Linked DNA regions of Homo sapiens: region 2 is linked to region 1. Evidence: fine-mapped expression QTL. A gene starts in region 1. The other region holds a variant in brackets. All regions are shown on one strand. Distances are between the middles of the regions. Region 1 holds the start of ITGAV (integrin subunit alpha V). Region 2 has its middle 46 kb from the start of ITGAV.

Region 1 (8,338 bases):
TGACTGATATTAAGGTGGTGAAGTAGGAGAAACACAGAAAAATAGAACATGAGAGGGAGGAATATGAAAGTATTTCCAAGGTGACAGAGAAAATGATGCCAGCATTAATAGAAACAGAGGTGCAACTAACATCTCTTGGTGAAGACTTTTTAGTCAAATTGAGTTAAGACAGGCTAGTCAACGAGAAATGATTCACAGGCCAGGCCACTGGAATATCAAGTCAGAGATCTACTTTTAGATTTAAGATACAGCCAGGGCAAGAGTTTTATTTAAAAGGCTTTCCAGATATTGCAAACATGAAGTTAGGACTGAGAACCATTGAAGGACCTTCTGCTTCTAAGGCATACACATCTACACATTGCCAACTGTAAGATAAGGCTCCATTAGCGTTTAATGGGGGGAAAGGCAAGAATCCAGTGTCATTCATTATAGCATTATTTTAAAATAAAGAAATACATAAAATGAGAACTGTATAACATATATTTGAAGAATGAATTTTAAAATTGTTCAGTTATTTTCTTTAAAAATTCAATATTTGAATTAATAAAAGTGGGATTTGAATTTTACACCCTGTCTTCGGATCCTTCCCTTCCTTACCCTCTACTCACACCAACCTACTCAAATAACTAGACTGCAAACGGTTCTGCCTCCATTTCCTCCTCATCTGTAAGAATGAGTATATCTGCTTCCCCTTACTTCCCCCCGGTGGTGTGGGCTATAGAATGAAATGAGATATAAGTGCTTAGCAAATTATAAAATATGTTTACCAAAATAAGATGTCATCATTATAATTAAACCTAGGATGTAATTTTTAATTTTTCCAATTAGTCTCCACAAGAAAAGTATGACTCTAATTATTAGCCTGCATACAATCTTTAAATTTTATGTAAGTTTTACAACATAGCATAAATAAATGCTTATAGAAAAAAAAACAGAATGCGAATGTTTTTTCATAATTTTGAAAATCACTATATTTGTGAATTTTTACTTCGAACCTGACTCATTTCTGGAGTGATTTTTTGAGGGGCCGCCTTAACATTTTGCTTAGTACTTTGTCCTTCCCTTTAATAAATATTGATTCATTAATTTTCACAACAAAACTATGAACTATGCAGATAATTCAATAATAATTTTCTATAAAGAGAAAAATTAGGCATAAAATAATTCTACAGCTTCCCCAAGGTATGTGGACACCAAAACTGGAAAAAGCAACAGGAGTGGACGTCACAACCACTGCTCCTCACAAATCCTTCTCCCCTCAGAAGAAAGGCGCTCTTGAATTGACAAATACTTTTTCATTATGTGGCTTTTTTTCTTTTAAAAGTTTATGGTAATACCAAATAACAATAAATCCAACTGGTAATATTGGAAATGGCATCCCAAGTACCTTGGATTCCAATGCTTGTTAAATTTAAAGTGCCCTTCTAGAAAATTCAGCAAAATTTTACATAAATTTTTGTTAAATCTGAAAAGCTCAGTAAGTAAAAACCTGTGTTTATATACGTTTTGTTTAAAAAGAAAAAAGAAAAAAATTCAAGGTTGGTTTCCATTTTTTAAGTTACCTATACCTAGAGCTCTGTAGTCTATCGGTAACAAAGTTGCTGATGAATATTTCAAAATATTATATGCAACCAAACCCAAGTTCAATTTTACTTTATCATTAAAGGTCTATGAGTGAAGTCATGTAAACCTGTGAGGTCATAACACATTCATTGATTATAATGACTGGCCAAAGATTAGTCACCCTGGTTTGTAATCAGCAGTAGCAAATATCATGAAGAGTTCAACATCACTGCATTTTTCATGGAAAAAAAAAAAACACTTAAAGTTTATCAGCCTCTCATTTATCTTACACTAAACTCAGAGCACTGCTGAAGAATTAACAGTAACATTGTAAAACACTGCCATCAACTTTATTTTGTTGTTGTTATTGTTTGTTGTTTTTGATTTTGTTTTTGTTTCTGAGACAGTCTCTCTCTATCGCCCAGGCCACAGTGTGGTGGCACAATCTCCATTCACTGCAACCTCAACTTTCCAAGCAATCCTCTCATCTCAGCCTCCCGCAGAGCGAGGATTACAGGTGTGCACCACCATGCCCGGTTAATTTTTGTATTTTTTTGTAGTGACAGGGTTTCACCATGTTGCCCAGGTTGGTCTCAAATTCCTGAGCTCAGACAATCTGCCCATCTTGGCCTCCCAAGGTGCTGGGATTACAGGTGTGAGCCACTGTGCCTGGCCTGAAGTATTTAAATGCTAATTTTTGACTGAAGACATATATTTTCAAAATCATTAGAATTTCTCTACAAATTATATCTCACATTGAACCCTTGGGAGCAACTAAAATGTTCTGTCTCATGAAGGTATACACTTGAAAGTATCTGGAAACAAAAATGTTTAAAGATAACGTTTGGTATTCACCCCTGTGGTTAAAAACAATAAATAAAAAGATAATGCTGACTAAAATGACTAAATGGAATGTGAAATTGGTAAATGTTGCCTAAATAATGATTATTTTTATCATGTTGGAAAATCTGTGCTCCAGGTCTCACAGAAAGCACTGTAACTGCTAACAACAAATAAAACTAAGCTTGCTACATAAAATAATGTCTCCACTAACAAAGTTTCCATTAACTGCATCTAATCTATGTATTGCTGCAAAGGTTGTTACCAAAATGAATGATACTCAGTAACATTCAGAAAAACACTAAGACTAAATTCTGCTGAGTGTCCTAACAGTCATAGAAAACCATTGAGACCACCCTCAAATTAGGCATGTGTGTAGTAGAAGATGGTCCTATCCACGTACTAACCGTCAAAATTTTCCTCCACTTCACCCCGAAGGGATATCTTATACAGAAAATATGGAAACAAAAATATGTTGTTACAAGGTCTAAGCGTTTAGAAGGCACCCTAAGAACAGTTTCTCTCTTGAAAACAAGATTTAAACATCATTAAAAAAACAGTCAACATTCATTAAAACAGTACTCCTAACGCTAACATGGGGGTGGGGTGGTGAGAATGATGTCAGCATTCAGTAAAGTCGGAGACAATTTCTAACACAATAATGGCAATAACTGTTATAAATCCTGACGGCCCTTGCAACGCGGAACGTTGGCAACTTGAAAACATAACTGAATTATTAAATACTGCAGTATTCAAATGACCTGCAGCGAGTGAAAACTCAGCAAACACCCTTGTTCCTTCTGAACAATGACCTAAATAGTGAATCACTATAAAAAGAACAGATGACACATTCAATTCATCTGTTCAACCTCAAATGTGCAAATGTCTGACAGTCCCAGAGATAAGACACAATGAATTCAATAGGACAGTATGGTCATTTTAAGTCATCAGAATGTCTGCAAAAGGAGTAAGGAGAAACAGAATCAGACAGAGGCGGAAAGAGTGGGGGAGGGCTTGTTTAGGGAGACTGAAAAGGACGGGCGTTAAGCCTGTAAAGCAGAAAAAGGCTACCAAGAAGCCTAACTGGTAGAGGAGAAAAAGAAGTTCGGGGATGATATTGACCAAATCCTCGACACTGGCACAGGAGGCGGGGAGTCCGGCAAGACCAGCCTTTGTTGATTTCCCACTTTCCCCGATTTTTAAGCACAGGTCTGCTTCAAAGCTCTCCCGCTGCCCCTAACCAATTTTAAGAGGTGAGAAGCGGGGTGTAACTGGGTGATGGGTACCAAAGGGAGTTCATTTCCCCAAATATTTCCTCCACCCAGGATATAAACCACTCTGAGAGGTAGGATGGGTGAGACAGACAGACGCCGGGATCTCTCGGAAATCAATCCCAATGGAGAAACGCTGGGTGGGTGCGCGCGGTGGGGGAGGGGGCCGGCTCCAGTTCCAAGTGCGGCCACTTACGAAGACGCGCTGGGCACGAAGAAATCCACGGCGAAGCCGAAGTAACTTCCCTCGGGGCCAGAGTACTCGGCAGGACTGTCCACGTCTAGGTTGAAGGCGCGGCACAGAGGTAGCAGGAGTCCCGAGAGAAGAAGCGGGAGGCCGCGGGGACCGAGGCGCAGCCGTCGCCGCGGCGGAAAAGCCATCGCCGAAGTGCGCGCGGGACGCCAAGCCGGGAGCGGTAGCCACCTCCCCCCGCCCCAGCGAGGCGCCCAGTGCCCGCGGCCCGCCGCCTGCGCGCGCCCAAACTTGCCGGCCGCTCTCTTCTCGGCTAGCCCGGGACAGCTCCGGGGCAGGCAAGAGGGCTGAGCTTCGGAGCGACCGCCAGGGACGAGGGGCGCAGAGCGCGCGGGGCGGGGACAGCAGCGCAGACGGTCCTTTGCTTCCCTCCGGCTCCGCCGCTCCACGCAGCGTCTGAGGCTGGGGACTGCCGGGGTGAGCGCCGCACCTCAGGCCTGAGAGCCGCGGCGGCACTGGGAGGAGACCTGGAAGGAGGAGGAGCCGGCCCGGGAGGCTGCTGTGGAGCTGGAGGAGGAAGTGGGGGAGGAGAGGCGCCCTTCTACAGGGGAGAGCTCAGCGTACTTCCGTGAGTGCAGTCGCCGCCTGTCCCGAGACCTGGGCGTCTGTGCAGGGGCCCCCAGCTCCTGAGCCTGGGTCAGCGGCAGCGCTCCTGGACGAAGGCCTCAGGCTGAGCACCTGAGGAGGCGTGGGGGCGGGGGCGGGGAGATACGGTCCAGCGTCCCAATCTACCCGCGTCCACGGGAGTAGCAAGGGCACCCACGTTCCCTTGTCCCGCCGGGAACTTCCGTGCGACTGTTGTTTAAAAATGAGGAAAGCTTTTTATCAGTTTCTCGTGTTTCTGCTGCTTAGCCTGGCAGGCTCTCACGAACGAAACCCTGTTAATTAATGGTCGTTAATTACACTCCATTCCACAAACACTGAACTTAATTACGGATTTCCAGAAAGCCAGCATAGCCTCTTGCAAGTGAGGTATGTAAAGCTTAACTTAGTAGTCAAAGAAAGGATTCGCAGGGCAAAGAATTGGCAGTGATCGTTTTAAATCAAGTCAGAATAATCGAAGCCTTATTCCCAGTTTGTTAGCTGCGGTTGTATGATTTAGAAACACTGATTTGTTGATTTAGGATGTTTGGATAGACATAATTTCAGAGCTGGAAGAAGGACCGCACACCGGTGAAATAAGGCCCCGCGTGCTTGTTTGCCACTGGTGTGTTTCATCAAGCCTTGACAACACTGGACTGAGAGAGAGGGCCTTGAGGACAGGAACCTTGACCTTTTTCTTAGTGTTCTTATTTCTAGCACCTTGCCAAGCAGATAGTAGTCGATCAATAAAATGTCCAATCAGTGAATGAATAGCAGACGAAATGAGCAAAGTGCCCAGAGAAGTGACTCTTCCATATTTCAAGTGTTTCATGTGCTACAGAATCTGTTGAACAAGGTGAAGTTTAAGTGCATTGTGTGGACTTACAACTTACAAGTAAGTACTGGAACAGTAATTTCTGTTTTCCCAAAGTAACTATTAAAACTCAATCATAATATACATTAATAACTATCAAATAATCCTGTGAAAGGATATGTATATAAATGAAAGTGAAATGCCTAATTCGAATTTGTAATATTTATTGGACCAGGTCCAGGTGCTCATGCTGGCAATCTCAGCACTTTGGGAGACTGAGGCAGGAGGATTGCTTGAGACCGGGAGTTCCAGGGGAACATAGGGAGACCTCATCTCTACAAAAATTTAAAAATTAGCTGGGAGTGTGGTGCATGCCTGTAGTCCCAGCTATGCCGGAGGCTAAGGCAGGTAGATAGATCGCTTAGGCTCAGGAGTTCCAGGTTATGATAAGTCATGAGCCTGCCACTGCACTCCAGCCTGAGTGACAGAACAAGACCCTGTGTTTAAAAAAAAAAAAGGCCGGGCGAGGTGGCTCATGCCTGTAGTCCTAGCACTTTGGGAGGCTGAGGCCGGCAAATTGCCTGAGCTCGGGAGTTCGAGACCAGCCTGGGCAACACAGTGAAATCCCGTCTCTACTAAAATACAAAAAATTAGCCGGGCGTGGCGGCATGCGCCTGCAGTCCCAGCTACTCAGGAGGCTGAGGCAGGAGAATTGCTTGAACCCGGAAGGCGGAGGCTGCAGTAAGCTGAGATGGTGCCACTGCACTCCAGCCTGGGCCACAGAGTGAGACTCCATCTCAAAAAAAAAATGCATTAAATATTTCCATTTTTAAATTTGACTAAAAGATATGCAGCAAAACCTTTGGCATGTTTTACAAGGCATGGTCTAGCATCTGCCTGAAAGAAATTACTGATTGAGAGAAGAAATCCTACACAAATCCTTACACATAAATGCAAATACAGCTTATTTCTCACCTTCTTTCCTAATACACCAAAGAGGCTATTGATATGTATGCATAAACCCAAAGGGTCTTTTATATCTTAAAAACATGACAACCAGTCTACCTGGAAATCCATCCAGGTAAGGAAGACAGAAGAGTTTAAACTCTGGCTAGATCCAGTAAGTCTCCCACTCCTCAACTTCTGATCGCAGGACAGGGGTCCGACAGACCAAGGTGGAGTGAAGAAATGTGAGAGGACCAGGGAAAAGAAGAAGCCCACGAAATGACAACACATGTACACCCACCAAAACTTGGGTGAACAACACACCCCCAAATAGGGCTACAACTTACTGAAAGCACTTACTGTTGAGCCATTCTTTATGAGTTTATTTTGAATGAGCAGTCTTGAAAATCAAGGAATTTGTTTTTTTTAAAAAAGCAAATAGTCCAGGCACTGTGGCTCATGCCTGTAATCCCAGCATTTTGGGAGGCCGAGGTGGGTGGATCACCTGAGGTCAGGAGTTCAAGACCAGCCTGGCCAACACAGTGAAACCCCGTCTCTACTAAAAATACAAAAATTGGCCGGGCGCAGTGGCTCACTCACACCTGTAATCCCAGCACTTTGGGAGTCCAAAGTGGGTGGATCACGATGTCAGGAGTTCAAGACCAGCCTGGCCAAGATGGTGAAAGCCTATCTCTACTAAAAATACAAAAATTAGCTGGGTGCAGTGGCAGGCACCTGTAATCCCAGCTACTTGGGAGGCTGAGGCAGGAGAATCACTTGAACCTGGGAAGCAGAGGTTTCAGTGAGCCAAGATCGTGCCACTGCACTTCAGCCTGGATGACAGAATGAGACTCCATCTCAAAAAAGAAAAAACAGTAGCCAGGCATGGTGGTGTGTGCCTGTAATCTCAGCTACTCAGGAGACTGAGGCAGGAGAATTGCTTGAACCCGGAAGGCAGAGGCTACAGTGAGCCGAGATATTGTGGTATTGTGGGCCACTGTGCTCCAGCCTGGGTGACAGAGCGAGACTGTCTAACAACAAAAAAAAGCAAACATACATTTCAATTAGGAAACTATGAAGCAGACTAACCCAGTGGCTTTAGAAACTTGGGGTTATAAATGCAGGCATCTCTTTGTGTGACCATGCTCGAGCAGCCACTCACACAGTGCCTTGCAAATTGTATTGTAGAACATGTCAATTCAGCTAGTGCTGATTCAAAATCCACATTGCACCTGGTACTATGTGCATGGGACAGAGAAAAGAATGTTTTAGTCTACGAAAGAATGGTGGTGCCCCTCCCCTACCCCCATGACACTACTCTTTGAACTACATTATAACAGTTTTCCAACTTAAAAGGAGAACTTCTGTGTATACATTAAGTATTCATTGAATATAATCCTTTTCTTAGAAAATAAAATATTAGATAGTAAAAAGAATTTGTACTTTGAATTTTATCCTCTACTACCCTATACTTTAGTAAAAATCTTGATTCCAGTGGTTTCTGTAAAATAAAGCACCTGGGTTCCATTCCTGGCTTTGCCAACTACTAGTTGTATGACCCTGGGGAAATCAATCCAACCAATCTGTGCCTCAGTTTTCTTATCTATGAAAGGGAAAGGGGAGTAATACTATGTCTATCTCTTAGAATTGAACAGTTCTTGTTGCCATTAATACTTTTAAGACTAATAGTTTAGCATGGTAGCAATAATAAATTTTTTTTTTTGAAACAAAGTGTCACTCTGTCACCAGGCTGGAGTGCAGTGGCGCCATGTCAGCTCACTGCAACCTCCGCGTCCTGGGTTCAAGCAATTCTCCTGCCGTAAATTTTTATGACTATTATTTCACTCTCTTAGTTCCCCTAGTGTCTGTCCAACAGGTCCTTCAATAACCATAATCAAACCAGGGCTTCACGCAGCTCTGTCTCTGCAAACAAAGGAACTTAGTCCATAATTTAAGAGGAATTTCAAATTTTATCTCTCTCAAAGAACCTCAAAGGAGATTCAGTTAATAACCCATGGGAACTTCAGAAATCTGCTTCTTCTACTCTCAATTTCTCTGGAGACTTTAACC
Region 2 (8,294 bases), 46 kb after region 1:
ACTTACTAGCTATGTGATATTTAATCTCTCTAAACATTGGCTTGCTCATCTTCAAAATTAGGATAATAAGAATAACTACTACAATGGTTGTTGTAACGCTTTGTGAGAAATCTTTGTATAGAACCTCTTAAAAGGCTAGTACAAGTAACTCCCACATAAAATTGTTGTGAAGATTTAATAAATTCTTAAATATAAAGCATTTAGCCTGATGGCTGGCATATATTCCAAGATTCAATAAATGTTAGCTATCATTGCTATAATTACTACTACTACAATTATATTAGATAGATAATTGACTGTCACTTCTCCATTCACTATGGGTTCTTTAAAGAATCTTGTCAGTACCTATCTCACCTAGAAAACTGGATATTAGATAGCTAGATATAGCTATTTTAAAATATAAACTGAAGATATATAGAGGGTAGTTTTCCATGTGTATCAGGAACTTAGGGGTGTCTGGGTTTTAAGTATATCTATATTTCAAATTTAGTTTAAATGAATTTAATTTATTTCTTGTAGATACAGGGTCTCACTGTGTTGCCCAGGCTGGTCTTAGACTGCTGGGCTTAAGCAAATCACATACCTTGGCCTTCCAAAGTGCTGGGATTACAGACATGAGCCCCTGCACACAACCTTAGGTACATTTAGAATGGTATGCATATAGATACTTAAGAATCTTGAGGGCGTATAGGGGGAAAGGTGCACTGATGAGCCTTACTTGATGTCTGTGCTTTGCAGATGGAAGAAGGAAGAGAAGACAGGAAAGAACACATAAGGAAAGATTAGTGATCCAGAAGTAGATCCGGAATGATACCAGTCACAGTACCAAGGAAGGAAGAAATTAAAAGAAACAGGGGAGTGTTCAACAATGCTGAGTGGTACACAAAGGCCTGAGAAAAACTGTAGGCTTTGCCAATTATGGGGTAATTGGTGACCTTTGAGAGAATAGTTTTAGAAAGAGAACCAAGGGTGGAGTTAAAATTCCAAGGATCTGAGGAATGAGTGGGTGGTAGGAAAAATGGAAGCTATGATGGTAGCCTACTTTTTAAAGATGTTTTCCAAAGAAGAGAAGAAACAACAGAGGGCAGTAACTTGAGAGGGCAGCAAGTCAAAGGAAGGATATTTATAAGGAGAGAGAATATTTTTAGAAACTCAAACAGAGAGCAAATTAAAACACCATCAAGAGAGGCCCTTGGTGGAATAAGATCCTAAAGGAAGTGAAGAAGAATGGGAACAGAGCCCAGGTTGAACCTCGTAAAGGGAGGACTTCCATCATCATTAGAGGCATGAGTAAAGGAAAGGGGCGAACAGACTAAAATTAACAAGATATACTGAGATGGAGAGAATGAAGCTGCACAAAGTCTACATCTGATATCTTGAATCTTACTGGGAAATGAGAAAGTGATTGGTATATTCTGAGAAATTACCAGAAATAGGGTGGGAGCTGAAGGACAGGAGGGCTACATGGAAGGTTGAGAGTTGACTGTACCTGAATATAATAATTTCTGGGCAGTAATGAGAGCTTAGTTAAAATTAGACATATTAATTGCTGTAGACGCAGCATATTCATTTTCCCTAAGAATGTTAAATGTCCAGAAAGTGACAGTAGAGAAAGCATATTTTCTTTATATTGAGCTTAAAAATGCTAAGACAGGAATGAGAGAAAAGAAAAATGGCAAGGGATGCTGTGAGGCGGTGAAGAGTGTATTACTGTCAGGAATTAGCATATTATTTACATTAAAAATAAACTCAGAGAAGGGAGGATAAGCTGAAGAAAAGAGAGAGTTCAAGACACAAACAAACACCATTAGGATTAAAAACAAGTTCAGTGATGATGAAGAAATGGAGGATTTGAAGTTGAAGTCAGCCTGTGGATTTCCAGAGATCAAAATCTTGGAAGTGAAACCACATCAAGTGAGTCTGGGTAGGTCTTGCCTACAGGTGTAAGTCTGCTTCAGGAAGTCCAGAAAGCAGTGAGGAAAGACTGTTAGGAATACGACCCAGTGCTTACAGACATCAGCTTTGCAGTCAGAATCCCAGCTCTACCACTTTCTAGTTGGGTGACTCTGTGCAAGTTCCGAAACTTTTCCATGTCTGATCCTCATCCATACAATGAAGGTCACATTATTTCCTGGCTTTTAGAACTGATGTGAGGATTAAATGGGATAATGTATGTAAAGCGTCTCACATTTGACACCTAATAAGGGCTCAAAATATAGTTTTTATTATCTAGTGTTACTTTCAGTATCTTCATGATTCATATGTCAGTGTTTATCCAAGGGAGAGTGACATGGATTAAGGTGCAGAGGAAGACTGTGAATGGGGCATAAAAGTCTATGAAGAAGGTATCAGGTTTAGAGGTTAGTGGATGACTGGGCAAAGAAGGCTAGAAACCTAATAAAAATGCCTGCAACAGACATTGATGACCTTAAAAAAGGAAATCCTTTTTAGGTAGAACAGAGTAGAACGGCTCCCAAGTTTAGTGCCATTGGATTAATGATATCCTGAAAGACTCAGATTCTTTCTCTGCTTGTTTGCTGGTCCTCTTAAGGCTATGTTCCGTCACGCTCTCCATATTATGCCTGCAGTTTTAGATATCCTTAGGGAACAAGTTTTGGGGATCATTAGTGGATTCCTCTAGAATGTGAGGGTGCTAGCACCTATTTATTTATTTCAGTTTGGAGAATAAAGCAGCAGAGAAGTATTATTCCATATTTTGTTATACAAATGATGCTGCAGTTAGCAGCCTTATAAATACTTCATTATGCATATGTGAAGTATTTTCTAGGATGAATAGGAAGACATAGAATTGCTTCCAAAGAGCACACATTTTAAACATTGTAGATACTTACAAATGGCATTATCACTTTACACTCTCACTAGCAGTATATTAAAAAAACTAAGGATTACCCACTTCCTACTCATATTTTGATAATATCAAACTTTTAAATATTTGCTAATCTGGTACACAAAAAACCATGTCTCATTGTTTTTTCAATGCGCATTTTTCTGGTTACAAATGGGGCTGAGTATCTTTTCAAATGTTTGTGGATCATTTGCATTTAATTTTTAATGAATTTCCTCTTCATCACTTTTGCTTGTTTTTCTATTGGATTGCTTACGTTTTCTTAATTTGTAGAAATTCTTCATATAGTCTGAATACTAATCCTTTGATTGCTATTTTCGTCTATCCTTTGCTTTAGCTTTGTTGAAGATGTCTCCAAGAAGGGAAACAACTTTTAATTTACAAGTAGGAAACAACTTTTAATTTGCACAAAACTTTTTGTCCTCTTGGATTCTTAGGCTGTTTAACTGGCAGTAACTGGTTGTTTGATTTCCAGAGTCTACTTTGCTCAAAGTCAATTACAGGAAGCTCTTTATACAGTGTCATTTAAAGGATAAGGAGAGAAAGCCTGAACTGCTAAAATATACTTCAACCCAGGAGTCTGATGCCATGACTGGAATTCCCCAGATTAGTCATTCCTGAGGGACTTTCTGGAATGTGAGATTTTAACTGGGTGAAGGGTATTATTATCTTGTTGAAACAGGATGTTAGCCTATCAACACATTAACAATGATTATGTTCTTCAATGAAATGTTTTTCCTTTTTTTTTTAACTGAGTAGAGAAAGAACAGAGCAGGAATGAGATGTACAGATAAAGTAAGCAAAGTTTGAAACACAGCACAGGGCCCTGTTATTTGAAGAACTATTACGGAAGGCTCTGGGCAATGAGGAGGCAGTTTCAGGGCAAAATTTCTCTGTTTTAGGAAGAAAGAAGGGAGACTAAAAAGAAAGATGACCAAAATAAACTTTGAGTTTTCTCCCCTCAGCCTGGAATTCTTTTAATCCTCTAATACTCAGGTTACAATATCAAAATATAGTGGTTTTCCACTTAAATTAGATGTGCGTTTGATTATTCCCTTATTAAAGCAAACTTAAGCAGTTCTGCAGCTATGAGTCAACAGATCCTTTCAAACATTCCTCACAAAAGTCCTGTGATAGAGGAAAGTCATTTAAGATTTAAAATGAGAGAATTACAAAGAAAGTGGCATAAAAGACTTGTCCTTTGCCATGTGTTAAGTTGCAAGTATTATTCTAACTTTGTAAGTGGTTTTAGTCTCTGAGAGAAAAATATTTAATGAAAGCAGATGTTGATGAGTCACATTTAAGCTCTTATAGTTTAAAACACATTTTTTTTTTTTGTATATGGAGTTGTTGCTTGGAAGGTGGCTGGATAAAGTCCTCAACCCACACACTAAATGATGAATTTTCTTGTGTTGTCAGTACCAAAGAAGTTGGACTAGAGAGTCTGTAGGAACACTTCCAAATCTTGTATCCTACACTTTGTCAAAGGAGATTTATGGCTGGGCGCGGTAACTCATGCCTGTAATCCCAGCACTGTGGGAGGCCAAGGCAGATGGATTACCTGAAGTCAGGAGTTCAAGACTAGCCCGTCCAACGTAGTGAAATCCTGTCTCTACTAAAATTACAAAATTAGCCAAGGGTGGTGGTGCATGCCTATAATCCCAGCTACTTGGGAGGCTGAGGCAGGAGAATCGCTTGAACCCGAGAGGCGGAGGTTGCAGTGACCCGAGATTGCGCCACTGAACTCCAGCCTGGGCAACAAGAGCAAAACTCTGTCTCAAATTAAAAGAAAAAAAAAAAAAAGAGCCGGATACGGTGGCTTATGCCTGTAATCCCAGAACTTTGGGAGGCCAAGGCGGGCAGATCACAAGGTCAGAAGATCGAGACCATCCTGGCTAACACGGTGAAACCCCGTCTCTACTAAAAATACAAAAAATTAGCCGGGTGTGGTGGCGGGCACCTGTAGTCCCAGCTGCTTGGGAGGAGGCAGGAGAATGGAATGAATCCAGAAGGCGGATGTTGCAGTGAGCCGAGATCG[C/T]GCCACTGCACTCCAGCCTGGGTGGCAGAGCGACACTCCGTCTCAAAAAAGAAAAAAAAAAAAGATTTATGCCTTTTTTCCTTTTGCCCTAGTTATGTAGCCATGAAATGATGTAACCATGAGATGATGTAGCCACATGATGAAATAGCCCCCAACTCTTTTCTCCTGCGGCTACTTCTTTAAGTCACTGTTCAGACATTCACAGTGAAGAAGTTAGGGAGAAGAAGAAAATTTTCAAATTGTGAGTGTGAGAGAAATATTGATTTATTATTTAATAAATATTTACAGATTGGTTAGCATGTCTGAGACTAACCACAGGTGGACAGACTAACCAAATAATCATAAACACAATCTCAGACAAAGTTAAGTACTATGAAGTGTCCTTATAACAAAGGACTTAGGAGTCAAAGAAAACCTTCTCTCAGGAAGGACCAACATCTGTGCTAAGATCTGAAGGAGGAGCAGGGGTTAAAAAATGAAAGAGTAGGCCAGGCGCCGTGGCTTACACCTGTAATCCCAGCACTTTGGGAGGCCAAGGCGGGTGGATCACTTGAGGTTAGGAGTTCAAGACTAGCCTGCCCAACATGGTGAAACCCCGTCTCTACTAAAAATACAAAAATTAGATGGGTGTGGTGGTGCATGCCTGTAATCCCAGCTACTTGGGAGGTTGAGGTAGGAGAATTGCTTGAGCCCGGGAGGCAGAGGTTGCAGTGAGTCGAGATCTCGCCACTTAACTCCAGCCTGGGTGAGAGCAAAACTCTGTCTCAAAAAAAAGAAAAAAAAAAGGGTGAAAGAGTGGGTGAGTTGGCAATGGCAAGAGCATTCCAGGCAGAACAACAAGCATTCATAGGGCTCCTGATACAGGAGACAGCATAGTGTGTTCAGGTAACTTGGAGAAAGGGTGATGCAACCCCAAGGTAGTTAGGAGGATTTGGTAATGACTCGGATAACTGGAGATAGTTCCCTCTCAGATTCTTTGCTACTTTCTTCCTGTCTCTCCCTCTCTCCTAACGGAAAACAAACACTTCAGCCAGGCATTGTTTTAAGCACTTTATACATATTAACTCAACCCTAACTCAACACAAACCAACCAGTATATGTCAGAGAATATGAACTCAAGATCTTACCTGAGGCATCTCTGCTTTGTCTTTTTCACCCCTCAAACACTGAGCTATCCTTAAGATAACAAGAGAGTTTCTATAGGGACAAACCCAAGGCATTTAGTTTTTGTAGGGACAAGCCCAGGATTATTTGCGAGAAGGCCAAAAAAAACCCACACAAGAAAAAAAAGAAAAAAAAAGGTAAAAAAGGATGTAGGTATGCAAATGTGTTTTAGTCATGCTGAATCCCAAGGCAAGCTACACTTAGGAAGAAAACTACAAAAATACTATAATCCATTCATGTGTTATTTATTTAATTGTGATGTATAATATTTGAGTGTATATTCTGTCAAGTATGGTCCTAAAAATCTTATAATGTGTATGTTTGGTTAATCCTGACACCCAAACCTATTATGCCAATTTTACAAAGGAGAAACCAAGAGAAAATTCCAAGGATGCACAGCTAGTGGTAGTGAAGAAAGGTGGGAGCTGATTCTGAATAGTCTGGCTGCAGAACCATGCTTTTAAGCACTAGACTTCGTTTGCTCATTTGTATGACCAAAAAATGCCTTGTTACCTCATAAAAAGATTATCTTCTCTCTTCTCTAAAAGAGGGCCTTATGATATTTTAGGAAATGAAGATCTTCTTGACAAATATGAGAGTCACTGAATTAACAAGAAAATAGAGAAACTCTGATGGAACTCTGTAAAAGCAGCACACACTGAAACTGCACTTTCTTTGACAAAAGATTGCAAATAAGAATATGGAAGTAATTTTGTGGCCAGTGAACACGGAACACTTAAGTTATGCAGCAAGCCGCCATGTAACTCTAGACTTCTGAAACTGGTAGTACGAAAACAGCTCTAAGGCTGATTTTGAGCAGGGATTATAGTCAATCCTGCAACACTAAACCAATTACAGCAGAAAAAACCGAGACTATTTTCAACAAAGTTGCAGAATTTTCTGATTTGCATTAAGTGTTTGTCATTTTCTTGGCATGTTTCTCCTTTCATCATTGAAGTATGAGAGATTATGTGTTTAAAGTCTGCCTCTTTCTCATTTGGGTTTGAATAAAATTCCACAGTGTTCTTTTGGATGAAGGGGGTTCCCTAAAGTTAAAAGGAGTTTCCTCCACTTTTATTGAGATCTAAAGAAGCAGACTTGCAGTTCATCATTCACCAAAGAAGCAAAAACCAAAAAACTATAACTAGACATATCATATTCAAACTGCAGAAAATCAAAAGTTTAAAAAGAAGTCTTGAAATAAGCCAGAGGAAAAAATTACCTTACTTATAGAGGAGCAAAGATAAGAGCTACATCTGACTGCTCAAAAACCATGCAAGCAGAGTGGAGTAAATATTTAAAGTGTTGAGAGAAAAAAAACCTCACTGACCTAGAACTGAATACTCTGCAAAATTATTCTCCAAAAGTGAAGGAGAAATACTGTCTCAGACAAACAGAGTTGAGGGAATTTGTTGCTAGAAGCTCTGCCATGCAAGAAATGTTAAAAGAAGTTATTTAGAAAAGAAGGAAAATGATATGTCAGAAGCTGAGATATAAATAAAGAAAAGAACATCAAGAAAGCCGGGTGCAGTGACTCATGCCTGTAATTCCAGCACTTTGGGAGGTCAAGGCAGGCGGATCACCTGAGGTCAGGAGTTCAAGACCAGCCTGGCCAATATGGAGAAACCCCGTCTCTACAAAAATACAAAATTTAGCTGGGCATGATGGCGGATGCCTGTAATCCCAGCTACTTGGGAGGCTGAGGTGGGAAAATCGCTTGAACCCGGGAAGCAGAGGTTGCAGTGAGCTGAGTTCACATCATTGCACTCTAGCCTGGGTGACAGTGAGACTCCATCTCAAAAAAAAAAAAAAAAAGAAAAAGAAAAAGAAAAAAACATCAAGAAGGAATAAATATAGTTAAAACTTTCATTTTCCTTATTCTTAATTGAGCTAACAAATATGGTTTGTTCAAAATAACAATAGTAATAATGTATTCAATTATGTAGCAAATCAAATCCAACAATGTATTAAAGGAAATTATAGACCATAACCAAAGAGAATTTATCCTAGAAATACAAGGCTGGTTCAACATTTGGAAATCAATTAATATAATCCATTACATCAACATACTAAGGAAGAAAAGTCACGTGATTATATCAGTAGATGCTGAAAAAGCATTTGACAAAATTCAACACTCACTCATAATAAAAACTTTTAAGGCTGGGCGTGGTGGCTCACGCCTGTAATCCCAGCACTTTGGGAGGCCGAGGTGGGCAGATCACGAGG

The links.
Region 2: its variant is fine-mapped to the expression of ITGAV in subcutaneous fat (TwinsUK, PIP 0.95).

Annotation. Positions count from the first base shown.
Region 1 is chr2:186,586,056-186,594,393 of GRCh38, reverse strand. ITGAV (integrin subunit alpha V) reads right to left here and starts at 4,338. Exons shown (of 30, transcript NM_002210.5): 1 at 3,871-4,338. The coding sequence starts at 4,055. It overlaps LOC124906105 (a long non-coding RNA gene), which reads left to right and starts at 4,498. Exons shown (of 2, transcript XR_007087465.1): 1 at 4,498-5,404. RefSeq lists an enhancer at 3,856-3,915 and a silencer at 4,046-4,275.
Region 2 is chr2:186,539,721-186,548,014 of GRCh38, reverse strand. No RefSeq gene overlaps it. Among named protein-coding and RNA genes, the nearest start is that of ITGAV, 46 kb to the left of the region's middle. RefSeq lists enhancers at 5,000-5,507, 5,508-6,017. The variant C/T (reference allele first, on the strand shown) is at 4,905.